Linked DNA regions of Homo sapiens. The protein of the gene in region 1 interacts with the protein of each later gene in a pairwise test. Each region holds a gene or a part of one and is shown on either strand. Other genes may lie near its edges.

What was found. The genes of interacting proteins can lie anywhere in the genome.
Region 2: the proteins of BAALC (region 1) and CINP interact in a two-hybrid assay, tested with the Homo sapiens proteins (one study listed by BioGRID).

The regions. Positions count from the first base shown.
Region 1 is NC_000008.11:103,147,078-103,150,730, reverse strand, and holds part of BAALC (brain and acute leukemia cytoplasmic protein), read right to left. Parts: intron 1-3,653. UniProt on the Homo sapiens protein: May play a synaptic role at the postsynaptic lipid rafts possibly through interaction with CAMK2A.
Region 2 is NC_000014.9:102,352,739-102,356,391, forward strand, and holds part of CINP (cyclin-dependent kinase 2-interacting protein), read right to left. Parts: intron 3,160-3,653; coding exon 3,030-3,159; intron 1-3,029. UniProt on the Homo sapiens protein: Component of the DNA replication complex, which interacts with two kinases, CDK2 and CDC7, thereby providing a functional and physical link between CDK2 and CDC7 during firing of the origins of replication.

The sequences.
Region 1 (3,653 bases):
CCACTAAAATGCCTGTGAAGACATAGAAAAAGACCAAGACTCACAACATCACCACAAGTGAAGACTGGTAGGCAACCTAATCCCAGAATCTAGGAGAAGCTGGCATCATTTGTAAAGCAGATTGTGTTAGATTAAGAAAAACCTACCCAGACTTTTGGTTTTGCTTCATTACACAGAAGCCACATGGTGAGATGTAGGCAGACATTAGGTACCTATCCCATCTGACACAAAGACCTAGAGCTGGAAGCCTATGGAGTGGTACCAGCCATAGCTCTGGGCAGCCAACCTGTCTGACCTCAAGGGCATTTGAGACTCAGAAAGCTGGTCCCTGCACACACACACACACAGACACACCCAGCCATACACACAGACACACAGACACACACACACACACACAGCCATGTTTCTATATCCATGATATGGTTTGGCTGTGTCCCCACCCAAATCTTATCTTGAATTGTATCTCCCACAATTCCCACGTGTTGTGGGAGGGGCCAGGTGGGAGGTAATTGAATCATGGGGGTGAGTCTTTCCCATGCTGTTCTCATAATAGTGAATAAGTCTCATGAGATCCGATGGTTTTATAAAGGGGAGTTTCCCTGCACAAGCTCTCTTCTCTTGTCTGCTGCCATGTGAGATGTGCCTTTCACCTTCCATCATAATTGTGAGGCCTCCCCAGCCACATGGAACTGTGAGTCCATTAAACCTCTTCTTCCTTATAAATTACCCAGTCTCAGGTGTGTCTTCGTCGGCAGCATGAAAACAGACTAATACAACCCATAAAGAGACTAAATCCCAGAAAACAGCTAGGAAAAATATAGAACAGCATACTCAGCCTGAGCCTGTTGTGGGGGCTTGAGGGGGAGGTAAGAGGGAAACATGGAGGAATCACCTACAGTAATTACCTGGTATGTAATTTGCCTGAATTCAAGTATATTTGCCCAGTATTGAAAGAAAAAAAGAAAAATCCCTTTACTTCTCCATGACCTTTCCCCCTTTCTCTTCCTCCATTCAAACTAGACTTGGGCTCCCACTACCTCCATATAGTTTCCTAAATACAAAAATGAACAAATATAATTTTTCTTGGTTTTTGAGCTTCCAAGCAGTTTGAGGAATTTTTCCCATCCCCCCATCCGGAACTTTAAACATCACCTTCACGTATAAGATGCAAATACAGCATCGTCTTCATGGGACCTGAAAGATGAAACCTAAATGCTGAGAGAGGCATTATTTTCCTCTGTGTGCTTTTTCTATGCTTTTTAAATGTTTAATTAGGAGCATGCACTGCATTTGAAACCAGAAAAAAATATATGATTCTGCCTAAAGACTGTTCCTGTTTAATGGGCCTGTCAGGTGACTGGGATGCAGGTGACACCTGGGGCACCTCCTGCAACCCTTTCTATGGAGATGGAGATTGGAGCAGCACGGGCACTCAGCACAGGGAGAGGGCAGTGTAAGCACCGCAGAGCTGCAGGACTCAGCCTTGTAAATGCTAGCAGGAGGCTCCCACGCTAAATGGTTAATATTTTCAGAAAAGCCCAAGGCAGATGGGGTGGGGGGAGGGTACTACATTCGTGCTTAGCAGCACAGCACAATGGACCCTGCCCTGAATTCAGAAACAAGAGACCTGAATTCTGATCCTAGCTCTCCCACTTCCAAGCTGGTGGCCTGGCTCAGTCTCTTCATCTCACTGAATCCCAGCTCCTCATCTGGCAAGTGATGAGAACAATGGTTTATGAGGTTATTTCGGAGGGTGATATAAACTAGTGTCAAAAAGAAAAATTCTCACATATAGTAAATGCAAATAGTAGATACAAATAAATGCTATTTGAATCTAAACAGCCAGGAAATAGATCCAATCTCAGAAAAAAGTGTGAGGAAGTAACAGTGGAAATCCGTCTCTCTTATTATTTCCAAATGTTCACAGTGTTAGTGCTCATAAACACACTTGCATTAGTTTGCTAGGGCTGCCATAACAAAGTGCCACAAACCGCATGGCTTAAACAACGGAAACCTGCTGTTTCCCAGTTCTGGAGGCCAGAAGTCCAGGACCAAGATATCAGCAGGCCGGTTACAAAAAACAAACAAACAAAAAAAGGCAGAAAGAATGAATGAGACCTACTATTTGACAGCACAATAAGGTGACTATAGTCAATAATAACTTAATCATACATTTTGAAATAACAAAGTATAACTAGATTGTTTGCAACTCAAAAGATAAATGCTTGAGGTGATGGATACCCCATTCTCCATGATGTGCTTATTTCACATTGCATGCCTGTATCAAAACATCTCATGTGCTCCATGCATACATACACCTACTATGTACCCACAGAAATCAAAAATGAAAAAAGATATCAGCAGGGTTGGTTCCTTCTGGAGGCCCTGAGGGAGAATCTGTCCCCTGCCTCTCTCTGAGCTTCCAGTGGTTTTCAGTGGACTTTCCTTGATGCTCCTTGGCTGGTGGCAGCATCACCGGTCTCTGCCTTCATCTCCACATGGAGTTCTCCCTGTGTGTCTCTCTATCTCCAAATTTCCCCTTTTCATAAGGACACCAGTCATTCTGGATTAGGGCCCACCCTAATGAACTCATTTCAACTTGATTACCTCTTTAAAGATTCTCTTTCCAAATAAGGTCACATTCTGAGGTACCGGGGTAGAGAGGGGGTTAGGGCTTCAACATGTGAATTGGGGGAGACACAAATCAGCACATAACAACATTCTAAAAGAACAACATTCTCAAGAGAGATGGCTGTGGTTGGGCATGAGACAGAGTGGGAGTCAGGCATGTGAGGAAGCAAGCGTTCCTGGTAGCCAAGCTAGCAGGAGCTATATCATGATTGGGCTCAGGGTAAACCCCTCGAGTCTGCTCTGCAGAGGAGAGTAAATGTGGCATATAGACTGGCCAGAGAGGCTCTGAAGGAGTCTTTATAGGGATAGGATTTTGCAGCGGAGGCCAAAGGTCTGCTGAGAGTGTCTCGAGGCTGTAGGCCTGACATGGGAGGGCTCCTGGGATGAATGGCACAGCACCATTGTCCGAGAACAGGTTTAGACACCCAACTTCACAAGGGCAGAATGGCCTTATCAGCAGGAAGATGCTATGGATCACAGGTGCACAGATCCCAGGGTGAAGGTTGGACCTCCAGGAGTCCAAACCTGAGGGATTGCTGAGTGCAGAATGAGCCAGGAAAAGACCCCTTTCTGACTCAGAGAAGACTAGGTTCTTCCCACCAGGGCCTATTAACCGAAGAAAAAAAAATCTGCAATGTTTTTTGCAGAAAAAAAAATCTGCATTTATCCTTTGAGTTACATACAATCCAATTACACTCTTTAAATTATTTAAAAATATACAGTTGAGTTATTATTGACTATCGTCATCCCATTGTGCTATCAAATAGTAGGTCTTATTCATTCTTTCTACATATTCTGGAGGAAATTCTGGAATGCACTTAGGATACTACTACACCCTGCAGTGGAGTCACCTTAAATTCATCTTTGGCTAGGGTTGGAATTGTTTTATCTAATGTCCAATGAAGACAAGGTTCAATGGACTGATATCTAAGACAAAAGCATCTAAGATGAGACTCAGGAAAGAGGTTATAAGAATGACAGACTAAGCTTCATTTGCACAGCTAGATCATTCATTCATTTAT
Region 2 (3,653 bases), on another chromosome or scaffold:
ACCTCCGAAAGTGATTCTCCCGCCTCAGCCTCCCAAGTAGCTGGGATTGCAGGCACCTGCCACCACCCCCAGCTAATTTTTTGTATTTTTAGTAGAGATGGGGTTTCACTATGTTGGCCATGCTGGTCTCAAACTCTTGACCTCAGGTGATCCACCTGCCTCGGCCTCCTAGAGTGCTGGGATTACAGGCATGAGCCACTGCGCCTGGCCAAAACAAAAATTAAAAAAAAACAAATAAAAATACAACAATTAGCTGGGTGTGGTGGCAGGCACCTGTAATCCCAGCTACTTGGGAAGCTGAGACAGGAGAATCACTTGAACCCAGGAGGCAGAGGTTGCAGTGGGCAGAGATCACCCCACTGCACTCCAGCCTGGGCAACAAGAGTGAAACTCCATCTCAAAAAAAAAAAAAATTAACAAATGGGAGGGAGGGAACAAATCTCCCACGCAGAATAATTCCAAATAATTTATGTAGATACTGCACCCTCAAGCAGGTGGTGAATACGTCCCTACCCCCAGGTGTGGGCTATGCATAGTGACTTCCTGCCAAAGAGCACAGCGTGGGAGGAGGAGAAAGAGCAACGTCACAGCAGAGGAACCTGGAAACACTGCCCAGCCAGGTGATCAAGGTCAACTTCAGCAGTGGAAAGTCCTGGCTGTGCACAGTGGCTCACGCCTGGAATCCCAGCACTTTGGGAGGCTGAGGTGGGAGCACTGCTTGAGCCCAGGAGTTTGAGACCAGCCCGGGCAATAGGTGGGACCCAAAGAAAAGTCCTGATGACAGTATATCCAGTACGTGCCCTTGATATGACATGATAGAAATGGCACTTTACTTCTGTGGTCCTCCTCTGAACAAAACCCGTAACCTCAGTCTAATTAGGAGAAAAACATCAGATAAATCTCATGATGTTCTACAAAATACCTGACCAGTATCCCTCAACATTGTCAAAGTCATCAAAAACAGGGAAGTCTGAGAAACTGTCACGGCCAAAAGGAGCCTGAGGAAACAAGGGGACTCGATGTCATACAGGATCCTGAAGCCAAAACAAGACATGACGGAAAAGCTAAGGCAGGGCGCCAGGGCTCACACCTGTGATCCCAGCACTTTGGGAGGCCAAGGTGGGAAGATCACTTCATGTCAGGAGTTCGAGACCAGCCTGGCCAACATGAGAACCCCGTCTGTACAAACGAATTTTAAAAATTAGCCGGGCATGATGGTTCATGCTTGTAGTCCCAGCTACTCGGGAGGCTGAGGCAAGAAGATCACTTAAGCCCAGGAAGTAAAGGCTGCAGTGAGCTGTGATCATACTACTGCATTCCACAGCGAGACCTTGTCTCCAAACAAACAAAAAGGTGAAAATATAAAGATCTTAAATGTTTATGGGTAAGCTTCAGTTATCCAAGTTCAAATATGTGTAAAACCTGATTTCCTGTGCCTAGCAAAGAAATAAGGTGGTGTTATCTTCACATCTGGTGGCCAGTATGGTAGGTATTGAAATTTAGTTATTAGTTCATTAAACAAACACTTTAGTCTCTTACGTGCTGTATCAGGGATGGGCAAACTATCCCTGGAACACAGGTCAATTCTGGCCCATAGCCTATTTCTGTATGGCCCATAAGCTAAGATGGTTTTTACATTTTTAAATGGTTGAAAATAACCAAAAGGACAATAGTGATTGTGACTCATAAAAATTATACAAAATTCTAATTTCGGTGTCCAAAGATAAAGATTTCCTGGACGAACATGGTGGCTCACGCCTGTAATCCCAACACTTTGGGAGGCTGAGGTGGGTGGATCACTTGAGGCCAGGACTTCGAGACCAGCCTGGCCAACATGGTGAAACCCCATCTCTACTAAAAATACAACAATTAGCTGGGCATGGTGGCGCACACCTGCGATCCCAGCTATGTGGAAGGTTGAGGCACAAGAATTGCTTGAACCCAGGAGGCGGAGGTTGCAGTGAGCCAAGATCTCGCCACTGCACTCCATCCAGCCTCAGTGGCAGAGTGAGGCCCTGTCTCAAAAAAAACAAAAACAAAAACAAAAAAGGCCAGGTGCGGTGACTCACGCCTGTAATCCCAGCAGTTTGGGAGGCCAAGGCAGGCTGATCACTTGAGGTCAGGAGTTCGAGACCAGCCTGGTCAACATGGTGAAATGCTGTCTCTACTAAAAATACAAAAATTAGCTCATGTGGTGGCACGAGCCTGTAATCCCAGCTACCTGGGAGGCTAAGGCAGCAGAATCACTTGTACCTGGGAGGCGGAGTTTGCAGTGAGCCAAGATCATGCTACTGTACTCCACCCTGGGTATCAGAATGAGACTCCATCTCAAAAAAAAAAAAAAAGAAAATCCAAAAAACAAAGATAAAGTTTTCATGGAATGCAGCCACATCCATTTACGCATATATTATCTATGGCTGTTTAGTCCTATGTGGCAGAGATGAGTAGCTGAGATAGAGACTGGCTGGCCCTGGAAGCCTAAAATATTTACTCTGTGGCTGGGCGTGGTAGCTCATGCCTGTAATCCCAGCCCTTTGGGAGGCCAGCAGGTGGATCACCTGAGGTCAGGAGTTTGAGATCAGCCTGACCAATATGGTGAAACCCTGTCTCAACTAAAAATGCAAAAATTAGCCAGGCATGGTGGCGGACGCCTGTAGTCCCAGCTACTCTGGAGGCTGAGACAGGAGAATCGCTTGAGCCCAGGAGGCGGAGTTTGCGGTGAGCCAAGATCACGCCATTGCACTCCAGCCTGGGCGACAAAGCAAGACTCCATATCATGGAAAAAAAAAAAAAATTTACTATGTGATGAGCCCTGAAAGTGGGTGACATTTCCCCGGATGACGCACAGGAGGAGTGAGTGTCTAAGACAGCATCTTGGGGAACATTAAGGTTTACGCAGCAGGCAGAGGAAGAGAACATCAGAGGAGACTGAGAAGGAGTAAGTGATGGCCAATGGTCAAGCAAACCCCAAATACGTCCATCGGATTCAGTGACAGTGACCACAAGTGGCCTGCGTCTTTATGTCTTACCAACCCATCCAAGGTGGCCTGCAGTTCCTCACACAGCTTCTCCAGTTCCTCGTTATATTCCAGACACACCTTTTCTTCATTTTCCTTCGAGGCTGGGCTGCTGCTGTCTAGTTCTATCTTGTCTTTATTCCTAAACAAAATAGAAAATAATGTGTACAAAATATACTCTTTAAGCTTGCCTTATTTCCTTATAATAAATTCTACAAACCTCTATATCCACATAGTTACGTGGGACATTTTGCATAAGCATTGTTCTTTCATATCATTATGATACAAATGCAGTTATTATTTATATGTGCAATGAATATGTCCATTGGTCACTCAATTTTGCACCAAAATAAGTCAGTTAAATTCAGCCATGTGACAGCCGGTTTTGGTGGCTCATGCCTGTAATCCCAACACTTTGAGGGATGGACGCGGGAGGACTGCTTGAGTCCAGGAGTCTGAGTCCAGCCTGGGCAACACAGTGAGACCTCATCTCCACAAAAATTAAAAGTAAAAATTAGCTGGGCATGGTGGGACACGTATGTGGTCCCAGCTACTTAGGAGGCTCAGGTGGGAGGATCACTTAAGCCCAGGAAGTCAAGGCTGCAGTGAGCCATTATAGCACCACTGCACTCAGCC